2 separate regions of the Homo sapiens genome follow, and region 1 is linked to region 2. The links come from fine-mapping of genetic effects on gene expression. A gene starts in region 2. The other region holds a variant in brackets. All regions are shown on one strand. Distances are from middle to middle.

Region 1 (8,341 bases), 300 kb after region 2:
AAAAAGTCAGAAAACAACAGGTGCTGAAGAGGATGTGGAGAAATAGGAACACTTTTACACTGTTGGTGGGACTGTAAACTAGTTCAACCATTGTGGAAGTCAGTGTGGCGATTCCTCAGGGATCTAGAACTGGAAATACCATTTGACCCAGCCATCCCATTACTGGGTATATACCCAAAGGACTAAATCATGCTGCTATAAAGACACATGCACACGTATGTTTATTGTGGCATTATTCACAATAGCAAAGACTTGGAACCAACCAAAATGTCCAACAATGATAGACTGGATTAAGAAAATGTGGCACATACACACCGTGGAATACTATGCAGCCATAAAAAATGATGAGTTCATGTCCTTTGTAGGGACATGGATGAAGTTGGAAATCATCATTCTCAGTAAACTATCGCAAGAACAAAAAACCAAACACCGCATATTGTCACTCATAGGTGGGAATTGAACAATGAGATCACATGGACACAGGAAGGGGAATATCACAATCTGGGGACTGTTGTGGGGTGGGGGGAGGGGGGAGGGATAGCATCGGGAGATATGCCTAATGCTAGATGACGAGTTAGTGGGTGCAGCGCACCAGCTTGTCACATGTATACATATGTAACTAACCTGCACAATGTGCACATTTACCCTAAAACTTAAAGTATAATAAAAAAAAAAAGAAAAAGAAAAATAACATCTACCAAAATCCTACAACTAGCAACAGACTTAATGGCAAGAGACTAAATGCTTTACCCCAAGATCATGTGTAAGGTGAGAATGTTCATTTCCACCACTCTTATTCAAAATAGTGTTGACAGTTCTAGATACTGAAATGAATCAAGAAAATGAAGTAAAAAACATACAGATTGGAAAGGAAGCGGTAAAATTGTCTCTATTTGCAGATGACATGATTGTCTATGTATAAAATTCCAAGGAATCCACAAAAGAATACCTAGAACTAATAAGTTCAGTAAGGTCATAGCATACAAAAGAAACAAAAAAAAACCAAATGTATTTCTATATTCTAACAATGAACATGCGGGAATCAAAATGGAGAGTACAATACCATTTACAGTCACTCCAAAGAAAATGAAATACACTTAACAAAACATATATGGCGTATGTATGCTGACAATTACAAAATGCTGTTAAAAGAAATCAAGGAAGACCTAGATAAATGGAGATATATGTGGTGTGCATGAATTGGTAGACTAGATATAGTAAAGATGTCAGTTCTGCCCTGTAGTGATCTATACGTTTAATGTAATTCCTAGCAAAATCCAAGCAAGGGTTTCTATGGACATAGATGAGCTTATTCTAAAATTTATATGGAAAGGTACAAGCCGTAGAATAATTAAAACAACCTTGACAAAGAAGAATAAAGTAGGAGGAGTCACTGTATCACATATTAAGGCTTACTGTATAGCTACAGTAATCAAGACAGTATTACATTGGCAGAGGGAGAAACCCATAGATGAGTGAGACAGAATAGAGTATCCAGAAATAGGCCCACACAAATATGTCCAATGGACTTTGGCAAAGGTCCAAAAGCAATGCACTAAAAGAAGTATGGTCTTTCCCACAATTGGTACTGGAGCAACTGGACATTCATAGGCAAAAAAAAAAAAAAAAAAAAAAAAAAGCCTCAACTGAAACCTCACACATTAAACAAAAATTAACTCGAAATGGATGGTGGATTTAAATGTAAAATGTAGACATATACAACTTTTAGAAAATAAAAACATAGGAGAAAATCTTCCAGACCTAGGGCTAGCAATAATTTCTTAGGCTTGACACCAAAACCATGAATTAAAAGGAAAAAAGAAAAAAATTAATAATTTGGACTTTATCAGTATTTAAACTTTTGCTCTCTAAAGCCCCTATAAAGAGGCTAAAAGGAAAGCTGCCAACTGGGAGAAAATATTTGCAAACCACCTATCCAATAAAAGACTAACATCTAGAAAATCTAAAGAACTCTCAAACTCAGCAGTAAAAAACCAACAATCCAATTAGAAAATGAGCACAAGTCATGTAGAGACATTTTGCCAAAGAGGATATGCAGATGACAAATATGCACAGGAAAAGATGTTCAGCATCATTTTAGCCATGACAGAAATGCAAATTAAAAGTATAATGGGCTGGGTGCAGCGGCTCACGCCTGTAATCCCAAAACTCTGGGAGGCCGAGGCAGGCGGATCACCAGGTCAGGAGATCGAGACCATCCCGGCTGACACGGTGAAACCCTGTCTCTACTAAAAATACAAAAAAAATTAGCTGGGTGTGGTGGTGGGCGCCTGTAGTCCCAGCTACTCGGGAGGCTGAGGCAGGAGAATGGCGTGAACCCAGGAGGTGGAGCTTGCAGTGAGCCAAGATAGCGTCACTGCACTCCAGCCTGGGCAAGAGAGTGAGACTCCATATCAAAAAAAAAAAAAAAAGTACAATGAGATATTACTACACATCTATAAAAAAAAAAAGTAACAACACAGAATGCTGATGAGGATGTGAAGAAACCAGATCACTCATAATAGTTCGGCAGTTTCTTATAGAACTAAACATGCAATTAGCACATGACCCAGCAATTGCACTTTTGGGTGTCTGTTCGAGAAATAAACATGCTCACACAAAACCTGTACATGAATCTTCATACCAGCTTTACTCACAATAATAAAAATGGGAAATAGCCTAGATGTTCTTCAGCTGGTGAATAGTTAAATAAACTGTGCTACATATAGATTGTGGAATAGTACTCAACAATAAAAAGGAATGCACTGTTACATACATACCATAGTATACCACTTGACAATAAAAAGGAACAAAATATTAATGTATATAACAATTTGAATAAATTCCCACAAAATGTATACTGAGTAGGAAAAAACAACAAATCCAAAAATGTAACATAATGTACCAATGAACAGTTTTCGTTCATATAACATTTCAAAATGGCAAAATTGTAAAAAAAGGAGAGCAGATTAGTGGTTGTCAGGTAGAGATGGAAGAGATTTGGATGAAGGCAGGAGATTGTAAAAAGGCACCATGAGGGATCCTTGTGGTGATTCAGTGTCACGACTGTAGTAGTGGATACACAAACCCACACGTGATAAAATTGCACAGAACTAAAGGCACACTAAAGATACGTGCACACGTTCACTTAAAACTGAGAAAATAAGAATGAGTGAATTGTCAGTGTCCTGGTTGTGATATTAAACTATAGTTTTGCAAATATTTTGGGGGGAAACTGGATGAAGTGTCCTCGGGATCTCTGTGTGTCATTTCTTACTATTGCAGACGAATCCAAATTATTTTGAAACATTTTAATTTTTTTTTTTTTTTTTTTTTTTTGAGACGGAGTCTCGCTCTCTCACCCAGGCTGGAGTGCAGTGGCATGATCTCGGCTCACTGCAAGCTCCGCCTCCTGGATTCATGCCATTCTCCTGCCTCAGCCTCCCGAGTAGCTGGGACTACAGGTGCCCGCCACCAAGCCTGGCTAATTTTTTGTATTTTTTAGTAGAGACGGGGTTTCACCATGTTAGCCAGGATGGTCTTGATCTCCTGACCTGGTGATCTGCCCACCTCGGCCTCCCAAAGTGCTGGGATTACAGGCGTGAGCCACCGCGTGGGCCCGAAACATTTTAATTTTTAAAGTTATTGAAAAAAATGTGATTGGGATTATCAGAAAGCCAAAAGGGTACGTCACCTATAAAACAAGAACAGATTGTTAAGAAATGAACAGACAAGACACAAATATTCTTAGAATATGAAAACATGATTGCTATAACAATATTTAAAGGTTTGATAAATTTCAGAATGTGGAGCAAAAAGAAAGGGAAAGAAAATACCAGGACAAAAAATGAAAAAATATAGAAGATTAGTCCAGAGAGAGAGCAAGCAGAGAGAATGTAGAGGAGGAAACTATTAGAGAAATAAATAACAGGATCGAAACCCCAATGCCGGGAGCAGTGGCTCACTCCTGTAATTCCAACACTTTGGGAGGGCGAGATGGGTGGATTACCTGAGATCAGGAGTTTGAAACCAGCCTGGCCAGCATGTTGAAACCATGTCTCTACTAAAAATACAAAATTAGCTGGGCGTGGTGGCACATGCCTCAGGAGGCTGAGGCAGGAGAATCGCTTGAACCTGGGAGGCGGAGGTTGCAGTGAGCCAAGATCTCGCCATTGCACTCCAGCCTGGGCAACAAGAGCAAAACTGTCAAATAAATAAATAAATAAATAAATAAATAAATAAATAAATAAA[TAAAA/A]ATTACAACAAAGGATGAATTTAAGAAACACACACACACACCCATGAACACATACACGCACACAGAGTCATATTTTGAGCAAACCAAAATCAAACAAAATTTGGGAAGCTTACTTCTTATTCACTTTTTCTGAGGATATTACTCAAGCATATAGTCCATCACTAAAAGGGGGAAACGTGGAAATTATGAATCCAATAAGATGAAATCCCGAGACAGCAGCTAAGCAGCAGGCTCACAAAACAGCGAGCCCAAATTAGAATGTGGGGTTAGTGGGATGCGAGTAAATATCTTCAAAAGATGGAGATGTTTATTAAGCAAAGGAGAATCAGAAGAGCCTGCAGATGAATTAGGCACACCATGATAGGTTATAACTCTTTCAACTGTAAGAAAAGAAAGTAAGAAATTCCAGGAAATAAATACACAATCATGGCCCAAATACAAACCAAACCAAAATATGGAATGATTTTAATGCATGTACAGGGAAAGAAAAAACAGATTTCATCAGGGACTGTAATTTTTACTAGAGACAGTAACTGATACTAGGAACACTGTGATTTCAAGGACAGAAGGAAGGGTGGTGGGAACCGCAGACAATGAAATGTGACTATGACATAGTCTTTGACTTTCCAATGAGCAATATTTATATAGTTATAATCCTGCTAAGATATTTAGTGCCTGTCAATTTTTATAATCAACATGTAGTTAAAACAAGAGCTATACTTAAATGTTTAAAATAGATTGGAAGATGGGAGGGAAATGGAAGGATAGATGTGTTTTAAATTCTTGTTTTACAAGTTGGGAATTCAGTCTATATTTTCAAAAATGTATGGAACACAAAATGAGGGCTTATGGATTTCATTTTTAGTTACAAAAGTAACAATTTGAGGCAAAAAAATAGTGATATAGCCATCAAAAATTGAGAAGAGAGGAAGAAGATATTAAAAAGTATTCTTTTCAATCAGTAAGACATTAAACTGAGAATAGCTAAAGCCTATACATCAAGAATTAGTCCTAAAAATAGATCACTCAGATCCGTATCTAACACTCAAAAAAACTAGACACAGAAATAGTTAAACATGATTGCCCTTGGAGAGTAGAAAGTGGGGAGGTGACAGACTCTCACTTTATTTTATAAGCCAGTCTATTCTATTTGATTTTCTGCTACATGCATATATTACGTTGATCAAGGAAAAATATTTTATACAAGATTCTCTAGCTGTAACCCCATGGGAGGCTGTGGCCCAGTATCATCCTGCAAGGGGATGTAAAGTAACACGAGGGGTATACACTTAGGAAACATCTGCCATTGCGCTGAAATGTGGAGAAGGGAACAATAAAAGCCACAAATGAGAATTGCAACCCAAACACCACATGCGGAAACAGCTGTGTTAATTCTGACAAATTCTGTTTGACCTCATCCATCACTGCAAAACACCTGACTCTATCAGGGAAAAAAAAAATTCTTGCCTTTGAGATATTAATTCCATCTTATCAGTATAGGTCCATGCACATATTGAGTGCATGATGGAGATTAGATATCACTGGGGTAATTTCGGTGTGATTGCTTTGACAGTCCTAAAGCACTCTACATTTATAATGGCTAGTTATTCTATGTAGGCACTGTAATATCAACTCTCATGAGAGACCAGGAAAATAAATGATTTCTACTCTGATGCACATACATGCTGAAATAGATTTCTACAACATAGTCATTTGTTTTTATTCATCCTTTAAAATACATACCTCTGGTTACGTTTGCAGGCTACCTCTGTCATTATTCCCTTTAGCTCCTTTGCTTCCTGTAAAAAGCTGTGAGAGAATACAGCCTGTCTGATCTTGGCAGCCTCTTTGATGGCCTGGTCACTGAGCTGGGGTCTTAGAGCTGATGGCTGCCACATGGGGAGTGGAAAGCCATCTGGGTTCTGGGCCAGCTGGGCTCCCTGATTTAAAACAACCTCAAGGAGCACGGTAGGTGGAGCTCAGGTACCACTTCACACTCTGCCGTTTAGAAGGATGTGGGGCTGCTTTTAGGTGATCCTTTCTATGCAAAGAACTTGCCTCAGAGTTGAAACTCATGCAGATGTGAATAAGTATGAAGACAGAGCTATTCTTGAGAGGAGGCTTTAGGCCCATCCTGTCAGTGGGAGAGATGCAAAGGTGCTTTGGAAGCTGCTTTTGGGAAGATCTGGAGTCATTCGAAGAAAACTACAAAAATGATAAAGCATTTCTGATTGGATTTACCATACCCTCCACTCTCTCAGGAACAAAATTTCTACTGCATTTTGATTATTCTGCCAAATTACAGATCTGCAAGCTTTGTGTCTTTAGGAGCTCTTTTTGTTTTACGTACATGAACTCTGGAGTCAAATTTTGGCTCAGGCACTTTTTGTAATCTTGCACAGGTGAGTTAACTTCTCTATGCATCTAGCTATATATATATATGTGTGTGTATATATATATATGTATATACATGTGTGTGTGTGTGTGTGTGTGTGTGTGTATATACCATATCTGCTAACTGGGGAGAATGAGGGGTATAGGAGATAACCTGTGTGCCACTAAATAATAACAATAGCAATCATTTTTTTTTTCTACAAAACTTACACTAGGCACAGAAAATGTGAAGACAATGCCTTGAGATTTGCAAGTTGCAAATGGGGGTTTGAAAGTGAGAGCATGGTGAGGAGATAGCATTGAATACAAATCATTGGGGTTACTTTCTAGACATCGCTCTACAGGACACCTTCCATAGTTCAGTCATCTACACTGCCTTGAGGAGAGGCAGGGACACAAGGTGAGAGAGCAAAGCAGCTAATGTTCCATCTTGGGCTTTTAAAATAAGCTTGGGATGCCAGCCTCAGAAACTAGCAAACCGGCTTTGATAGCCAAAACTTTTCATTTGCAAGAGTGACTTCGAGGAGAAAAAAAGGGGAGTGCTCTTACGAATCCAAGCATAAAGCCCTCTAGGAGAGAATGTGGCAAGTGTGTGCTGTAGCAACAGATTACAAAAGAAGACTGAGAGATTCAGACAATGCCCTTCCTGCCAAGAATGGACAAGATTAGGGTGACCACATAACCTAAGGTCCAAATGGGTCACTGTTGAGAGTAAAAGCGGCCATTATACATCATTTTACTGGGTCCAAACAGGCAGAATAGGACTGACCTGCGCAAATTAGGACATGTGGCCATCTAGTCAAGGTGCACTGGGCTGGGAAAAGGGAACAGGAGCTGGATGGGGGGGAGGAATGAAATCTGGAGCACGACTTGGAGGAAAGCAGGATCAATAGAAAGAGCCCAGCACCATCTCTTGCCAGCACCAGAGGGCTGTGGGAGACCACAAAGGACCAGCAGGGCATCCATCAACACTAGAGTTAACCCCACTTGTCACCTGCCTGATGAGCCATGTAGCCCTCTGGGGAGAGCCTTCCACCTGTATCTGCCAGCATATTGCTGGTGCATCTTCCAGCAGCCATGGTGGCCGCTCGTCCCGTAGACTTTGCTGAGCCACATTCAAATTTCCCCACATGGCCATTCTGTCAACAGCCCAGGACATTCAGAAGCCTCCAGGAGGAGAGAGACATATGGATGGGGGAGTCCCCAGCATCCACACTTGGATGAAATTAGACTGTTGGAACCCACCTCCTGTTATAACAGATTCTAGCTGAATTTCTTCAGCAATGGGAAACAGCAGCAGCTGGGGAGGTGATGGTGGGAGGTGGGAAGATACTAGTTTAAAGACAGAGAGGCTTTGAGATCTTCCCAGCCTAAAAGAGCAATATAGCTTATCTTAAAAGTGAGTTTATTTTACAGAACTGAAATAGACAAAAGAAAATAGACACATGAAAAGAATTACAGTGTGCTTTCAGGTTGTGTGTAAGTTTTCCCTAGGTCATTTACTGTCCCTCATAATTTCCATGAGTTGAACATAAAAGTTACATGTTGATGGTATCAACATTGTAGGGTCTTATTTGACCTTAAGGCTATTTCCTACTGGCTGTGGGCTGTTAATATTCATAATCATCCTCTCTTGTAACTACCAGAAACCTATTGGAAAACATTTCTTAGGCTGAATTATGTATTTATATG
Region 2 (8,341 bases):
TGATTTTTAAAATCTTTGAGCAGCCAGAGAGGAAGCTGATCTTTCGAAAAGTCATGCTGACAATCATGGGCAAGCTCTCCTTACCTACTAATTCATTGGCTCTCAAAGCCTGCTCTGTTATCTCCAGTTCCTGGCTAGCTGTTTCTGGATGCTAAAATAAAAAGAAGCACCTCCTATTTCTTTCTTTTCTCTTTGCTGTTTGTTGAAAATAATTAGAGACAGATTATATGACCGTGGCTTTCCCCTGAGTATATTGCTGGGGTTATTCAAAAACATTCCTGCTGCCTGATACCTGAACTGACATACACACTAAGTGATGTATTTATGAGTGGCAGGTCACAATGCAATTGTGTAAACGTTTGTAGAAAAAGCAGGATCCAATTCTTTTACTTAAGCTGGGAAATGGTTTGGTTAGACAGAAGAGAGAAAAGCTAAAAGATCTGCTTGATATTTACATTTTGTCCTGATAGTAAGGAGCTACTAACGTAATCATGTGATGAAGTGTGGCTTATTTGGGGGACAATAAAAGCCATGATAGAGACTAAAGGGTGAAATATTTGATCTATGTAGTCAGAGCAAATTACAGAGGGCTGTGGATGCTCGGATTAAGAGTTTACCTTTAGTTCTCTTTTTATTGGAGCACCACTGGGGGTTTATGAGTTAGGGTACAGGCTTCCTCAACCTCAGCACAATTGACATTTTTGGCCAGATAATTCTTTGTAATGGGAAGGAGGGGAGGCTCTGGCCTGTGCATTACAGGATATTCCGTAGCATCCCTGCAGCTACCTACTAGAGGCCAGGAGCATCTACCCCTTATCAAATTAAGACAGCCAAAAATGTCATCAGACACTGCCAAATGTCCCCTGCGAAACAAAATTGTTGACTGATTGAGAATTAAAGAGTAGAGAATGATAGAATAATTGGTGTTTGAGAAGGACTGTCCAGCTGTGGTTGTGCAGAATAAACAGGATGTTAGGACAAGAGCCTGGGAGAATATATTAGAGGCTGTCTCTTTACCTTAGGTATGGTATATTGTAACAGTAAGAGCCTCCAATGAAGTACATTTCTCTGTATCCCTGTTTTTTTTGTAGTCCCTTCCCACACTGACTTAGGGCTTGGCCATGTGACTTGCCAATGTGACTTGTCAATGGAATATCAGCAAATATGACATAAGCTAAAGCTTGAAGAGCACTTGTACACTGGGGCTTACTCGCTTGGAACATTGCCACCATGTGACAAAACTCATGCTAGCTTCCTGAAGACACATGGCCCAGCCAACAGCCAGCACCAGCTTCCAGAAAAATGAGTGAGACTCTATAACCATCCAGCCCCAGTTGAGTCAACAAGAAAACCACCTGAGAGATCCCAGGCAAGCCAGCAGACAAACCACCTAGCTGAGCCCTGCCCAAATTGATGATAATGGAATTATGAACAAATAAAATGGTAGCACTTTTAGATCACTACTGTTGTTATGCAGTGATAAATAACTGATATCGGAGGTCTGAAGTATATTAATATTGGTAGAAATAAGAATAAGAAAAATGCATGCACAAGACATTTGGAATAATTTGTGTGTTTTTTGTTTTTGTTTTGTGTTTTTTGTTTTGAGACATAGTCTTGCTCTGTTGCCCAGGCTGGAGTGCAGTGGCGCGATCTCGGCTCACTGCAACCTCTGCCTCTCAGGTTCGAGTGATTCTCCTGCCTCAGCTATCCAAGTAGCTGGGACTAAAGGTGCCCGCCACCACGCCCAGCTAATTTTTTGTATTTTTAGTAGAGACAGGCTTTCACCATGTTGGTCAGGCTGGTCTCGAACTCCTGACTTCAAGTGATCCACCCACCTCAGCCTCCCAAAGTGCTGGGATTACAGGCATGAGCCACTGTGCCAGGCCAATTCGTGTTTCTTGATGACTCTTCAATGAAGGGGCTTAGGGAAAGGGCAAAGCAGGTCACAGAACATAAGAATTCAGAAAAAATGAGCACAAAGGTCAGAGTAAAAATTCAGGAATAAAGTTGTGCAAGCAATCTTCAAAAAAGCACTTCTTCCTAAGCAGTTAAAAACATGAAAGCATCTATTTTTAAAGACATAGATATCCATTAGTTGCTAACAGTATAAATATAATAATAGTTCAAAGATTTAGTTTAATAAGTATATTTGTAAAGCTTTAAAGGCATTACCAAGCCAGCTACTTTTAAATTCATATGGAAAAATCAATCTTTAGAATAAACAGGAAAGCACATAAGCTCAAAATCAATAACAACTTACATTGCACTAATGATAAGATTCATTGTATTAGCTGTCCAACTGTATACAACTATATTCACTTAGCAATTAGGTTGCTAAGACCAGGACTTCTAATGGAATGCCTCTCATAATTTACCAGTTAAATTTTCAGATGGGGGTTATCAGTAGTAGTTACAGTTTAATAGAAGCTGTTAGTGTTGACCATGTTTATTGTACAATTCAAGAGGAAATAGTTCCCCAGATGTTTAGCACTTAGCTTTATGTTTAAGAACACTAGCCTAGTAGGAACGTGTCAGTAATATCCCTTACTTAATGATCACATTTTTAAAAAATCAAAGTAATAAACGATAAAGAGAATCCAGAATGAGATAAAAGAAAAATACAGAGTCAGAAAGTCTAAAATGTGGAGGAAATGGATAATGTAAATAAAGTAAAAATGAGCCAAATATATCTTCACAGGCTATGAGAATCGCCTAAAGGCACGGTTACATAAGCCGTATGACAGACTGAGGGTCTCCTGGAAAAGGATGGAAAAAGTGTTTAAAAGGATCAAAATGGGTGGATTTTAAAGATCTCATATCCATTAAGCAGTGTTAAAGAAACAATAGTATTGTCGAAAAAAGTGTTTAAAACCAAAGGGTAACCTACCTTTGGATATGTAATTTCCATAAAGTTTGTTTAAGTAAAAAAACCTACAAAACGACCTCAGTCTTTGTTTAAACAATGCTGTCTGCCAAACGATTTTGTTTATCAAATTTTTTCTCAGGTTTTGGAGACAAGGATTGAGAAAAAATGTGGAATTGGAGATCTGGAAGATCTGTGTTTAAGCAGTGGGACCTTAACGTTAGACGCACAAAAATGCGTTAACGAAAGCCAGTAAAATTGAGAATGGGGTCTTCTGGTAAATCTTGTACTTTGGTTTGTAAGAAACTTCTATATAAAGAAGTTTATCAAGTTTCGGGAGTAAGATAATAAAATGCACTTAACCCATTCGGAATCCTACCCCTACCTACCTTACCTCTGTGCGGTTAGCTTCTGACGCGCGCGCCAGCACGTTCTGTGGAGAAGCGGAGCGCTGGGCTCTACCTGAGCAGCGCTTACGCCGAAGGGCAATGCTCCCCCCGAATCCCAGTTCCGGCCAGCCAGGTCTCCCCCACCTGCGCGGCAAGCAGCGGTGGACTCCGGGGCGTGGGAACTGGAGAAGCGGTGGCGCGCGCTCCTCCTCCCTGGCTGGGCGGAGCTGCACCCGCCGGGAAAGTGGCGAGAGCCACCTCGGCGCTTGGGCGCTCAGTCGCAGGAGGCGCTCCTTGGCGGTGCCTGGAGCCCGGGCGCACCCCACCGCTCCCGGGACCTGTTGGGGGCTGGCCCGAACCGTCGTCGAAGGGAGCCGCTCGGCCACCCCCGACGTTCCTCGCCCCGCCCGACGTTCCCTCAAGTGGCCGAACCAGCCGGACGAGCCAAACTCGCCGGGCCTCCCGGCGGCAGCAGGTGGCCCCGTCCTTCCAGGGAGGGCCCTGCGCCCCGCGGCGCTCCGGAGCCCTCTCGGCCGCCCCCGCCAGGCGGGATGGAGGCGGATGGGGACGGAGAGGAGCTGGCCCGGCTGCGCTCAGTCTTCGCCGCCTGCGACGCGAACCGCTCGGGGCGCCTGGAGCGCGAGGAGTTCCGGGCACTGTGCACGGAGCTGCGGGTGCGGCCGGCCGACGCCGAGGCAGTATTCCAGCGGCTGGACGCCGACCGTGACGGCGCCATCACCTTCCAGGAGTTCGCGCGTGGCTTCCTCGGGTCCCTCCGCGGGGGGCGGCGCCGGGACTGGGGTCCTCTGGATCCCGCGCCCGCCGTGTCTGAGGCGGGGCCGGAGACACACGACAGCGAGGAGGACGAAGGCGACGAGGACGCGGCGGCGGCGCTGGCCACCTCGTGCGGCCCGGCGAGTCCCGGCCGGGCTTGGCAGGATTTCCAGGCGCGACTTGGGGACGAAGCCAAGTTCATTCCCAGGTGCGAGTGTGAGCTGGGGGCGGGAGGTTATTCTGGCGCTTCCTGCTTGCTTCTTCCCACTTACTTGCAGGTGTGCAGACCCAATGGCCCCCCCCCCTAGTCTTCTCTGTGAGTTGCTTGTCTTCCTTCACCTACTCGCTTTGACTTTTCCAAGATCCGCTAGAGTTAAGAAAAAGGAGTCAGAGAGTCAGCGTTTGGGGAGAAAGTTTTACGTGCTGAATCCTGAGCCTGCAAAGGGCGGCGTGTTCATTACAGGAGCTCTCCTGAAATCTGCAGCTGCTGGCGCCCCGCGCGAGTTTAGGCGCGCGCGCCACATCTCACCGCGTCCTGGTTACGTCACCTTCTACCCCAGGCCTTAGGCTCTCACCCCAGGGCTGGGGCCCGGGCTGTTTGCCAATTTGGCGTCCTCTGTAATAGTTTTCTGATTTGTCGTTTTCCTAAGACTATAGAAAAGGAAACTTTGTTGGGCTTTTACATTGCTGGACACAAATATTGATTGATGTACCTGCTAGGCATTTTACAGAGTTCACGCATTTAATTTTCATAACATCCCTAGAAGGTAGGCTAGCTTATTTCTGAACTTAGACCTAGAAATTAGACAGACGTTAAGGGACTTGCCCAGTTAAACAGCAGAGATTTGACCCAAATTTTGTGAACTGAAAAACTCACTTTTTATGTGACGGAATAAAATGATAAAATGACACAGTATATTCTCTGCTCTTACTGCTCTGACAGAAATAACGTGTCAAGTCACGGACTTAATTATCAGGAGGTAAGGGGATGCCTGCAGGTGGGATTTCAGGGCCTGGAGGGAGAGAGGCTCAGATTTTCTTTTTGAGTTTCGTTTGCATTTGTCCATGCCTTGGTGTGGTGGGTGTCTCCAGCTGCTATTTTTCACTTCATGCCCCAGCGATACACACATTTCAGTGCTGTTAAGTGTTTTTCTGCTTTATGTTTGGATTTTAGCTGAAATTTTGCTGAGCTCTGGCTGTCGTTATTAAGACGCTCTGAAAGGCATCATTTTGGTTGGCAGTTTGCACATCTGAGACAGAACATTGAAAAGGAAGTATCCCTGGAAGGTTGTCAGTGTGCTTGTTCATTGGAAGCCCTCACTTCCTTCTCCTCCCAACTTCTCCCTCCAGCTTGGAAAGTAAGGGGAATATTGGGCATGGAGAGTGACTCACTGCCATAGAAGGGTTGTGTAGAGAAAGTGGGTGTGTAACGATCTTTTCTGTTATTTACAAATGAGTTACTCCCCAACCAGGGAAGTAGCAAAATTTAAACACTGCTACAACCTATACTCTTTATTTGAGTCATCTTTCATCTGTAACTTAGTTTGGGTGCAGCTAGTTAAAAAAAGTAAGAATTTTAGGAATGAGGCAGGGTGAGTCCACATCATATTGGATATGATGTATGCATACATGTGGATCTGTTTTTCACAGTTGTCTAGTCTCAGCAACAAATATTTCACACACAACCTTAAATGATTGAAATGACCTGGGTCAGTGTACAAACCAGGAATTAATATTATTGGTGGAATTATTATTATCATGTTGCCTTTCCAAATTCTTCAGAGATTACTACATTTAATGGGCACCGGTGTCACCTGGTAGACTTGTGTCCTAAGCCTCACCTCCTGATGTGAGATTAACAAGTACAATATTTGTCTTCCTCTCATGTTCAAGTGGAAGAGATCTAAACTGAGTTGCTGCATCAGATTGTTACCATGGCAGCCATCCGCTGTTTTGGTAAATTGGATTAATTCTACTTCACTTCCTCATACAGCTGTTGACCTTTTCTTCCTTCCATCCAAATGTGATTTAAACACTTTTTTGTTATTGATAATGCTGTCGGCATTATTTCAGCCAAATGTATTCCATAAGCATTACCAATTGCCTGCCATATGCCAAATACTGGCTTAGGTACTGTCCTAGGTTGCTGGGGACAAAGAGAAGGATAGTATGTAGTTCATGCCCTCAAGATGCTCATGGTGTGGATGAAACATTTTTCCAGCAACTTCATCGAAGAACATTTAAAGGCAAAGAACATTTGTAGGAAACTCCCTGTATTGTGGACATAGCCCAACAGACGGCTGCAAGCAAGAATTTTCTTTGAAGTCTTGAGCTTTTCTTTAAAAAGTGATTAAGTTGTTCATCTTTGTACACAATATTTTGGGACTTGTTTTCATATAAAATAGAGTTTCTTCTGAAGGGAGAATTGTCTTTCTAGGAAGGTGTGCCATTCCAACTTGTGGCTTTGTTTCCCACCTGGCACTCAATCTTATCCCTGGGGACAGTCTGCCCCAGGGCTATCCTGGGGAGTGTTCACATCCAGTTTGAGAGGAACGGATATTAAATAGGAAAATGTTTGGTTCCTATAAAGGCAAAGCATGACACTGTTGATTTTCATTTAAAGAATCTTTCAAGCAAAATATTAAGCAATTTTGGGTTAAACTCGCCAGTCATCAGTAATCGTGATGTTAGAGGGAAGATAATATTGCATCATGAAGGGATGAAAGTAGCTTTTGGGATATGTGTCATTGTTGAGTTCATTTTCTCTTAGAAAATTGAGGGACTTTTTGTTTTGAAGGCTGAGGAAGGAGTGTCCAAGGAGTTGTGTGACCGGGTAAGCTGAGCCTGGCAGATATGAAGGGTCTGCAAGGTCAGGATGGGCCTTGACCACTTCCTGGTCAGTTTGATAAGGTCAGCCAACAGGTGAAGGCAGCAGGACAGTGTGATTTAGTTACATAAGAGAATTTGGGAGGACAGGTGCTACCAGGCCAAGAAAAGTCCTGGAAGTAGGAAGAAAATGTGTGGGTGTTGAGGGTGGAGGGGCAGGGCAGAGAGCCAACTTATAATGTAGCCTTGCCAGTTTCTGATGCCTGGGTCATTGTCTTGGTGAAAGGGAGTTTCATACTCAGGAGATACTCAGTAAATGTTTGCCAAATGAATAGAATAAATCAGTATTCTTTGATTCTTGTTTCATATATCTGCATTTTGAGAGAGAGTGTAGTTCATGCTGTGAGCATTTTCTCCACTTCTTTTGCAGGTTCTCTCACTTTTTTTTTTTTTTTTCAGTTACTGTTGTGAGCCAGTCTTGGTGTTCAAAGATTGCCAAGAGAAGGAAATAGGCTGTGTGTGTGTGTGTGTGTGTGTGTGTGTGTGTGTATTGAGCATTTGATGGATGGCTGAGAGCAGGGATGAAGGCCTCTTCTCTGACCTCTAGTCAGAGCTGAAACTTTTCAGTTTTTTCTCAACTCCCATTTGCAGCAATTTTGAGTGTTATCTGTGAATTGATTCATGCTGATAAATTAACTTAGAAAACCCCACATTCTCACAAACAGGAATGTGAGGGTGCAGCTGGCACTGGAACCACTGAGGGTCTGTGAGTGGGCACAGGTATCCCAAAAGTATCCAAAGGAGGGACAGCCTCAGGTCAGGTACCTGAGGGTGTGGCAGGTATAGTGATGGGTGACCTGCCAGGCAGTGCTAGGCTAGGATTTGTTGAGACGTCAAAATCAGCACCGTTAGCTGTTTCACATGGTTTGCGATGTTTCTACATGCACGATGTCGAAGGGGATTCTTTTATTTGGTAATTTAAAAACAAATTTAATTGAGAGGAACCAAAACTTTCCATATGTGAATTGTATAGAGATTGGCAAAACGGCTTACCTTATTAAACTCAAGAGGAAAGGCTCACCCATTGGACAGCAATCCCATTTAATTGGGAAATTTTTAAAAACAAGTAGCTGCCAGTAGGCAGAGGCGAAGTTTCAGTATTGGTGAGGGTTGCTTCTCCATTTCCCTTTCTTGGGTTCTAGTTTAGCCCTTTTCAGAATGATTGCCTTGTTTTGTAATAGTGTAGTTGCTTCACAGCTCCCTTAATTTACATGAAACGGTGCTTGACAAGATAGAAAAGGGAGAGGAGAGACAGAGGCAAAGAAAGACATAAATACGGCCGGGCGCGGTGGCTCACGCCTGTAATCCCAGCACTTTGGGAGGCCGAGGCGGGCGGATCACGAGGTCAGGAGATGGAGACCATCCTGGCTAACACGGTGAAACCCCGTCTCTACTAAAAATACAAAAAATTAGCCGGGCGTGGTAG

Direction of the effects. Positions count from the first base shown, and alleles are read on the strand shown. Sizes are in standard deviations (SD) of each study's normalised expression.
With allele A in place of TAAAA in region 1, the expression in iPS cells of the gene that starts at base 3,532 in region 2 is higher (moderate effect, 0.45 SD a copy in HipSci).

The links. PIP is the estimated chance that this variant, and not a neighbour inherited with it, causes the effect.
Region 1: its variant is fine-mapped to the expression of RASEF in iPS cells (HipSci, PIP 0.95).

The regions. Positions count from the first base shown.
Region 1 is chr9:82,761,707-82,770,047 of GRCh38, reverse strand. All of the region lies in intron 2 of LOC107987087 (a long non-coding RNA gene), which reads right to left. All of the region lies in intron 1 of LOC124902188 (a long non-coding RNA gene), which reads left to right. LOC124902189 (a long non-coding RNA gene) reads left to right here and starts at 6,285. Exons shown (of 2, transcript XR_007061609.1): 1 at 6,285-6,657. The variant TAAAA/A (reference allele first, on the strand shown) is at 4,252.
Region 2 is chr9:83,058,333-83,066,673 of GRCh38, reverse strand. It overlaps RASEF (RAS and EF-hand domain containing), which reads left to right and starts at 3,532. Exons shown (of 17, transcript NM_152573.4): 1 at 3,532-4,237. The coding sequence starts at 3,807.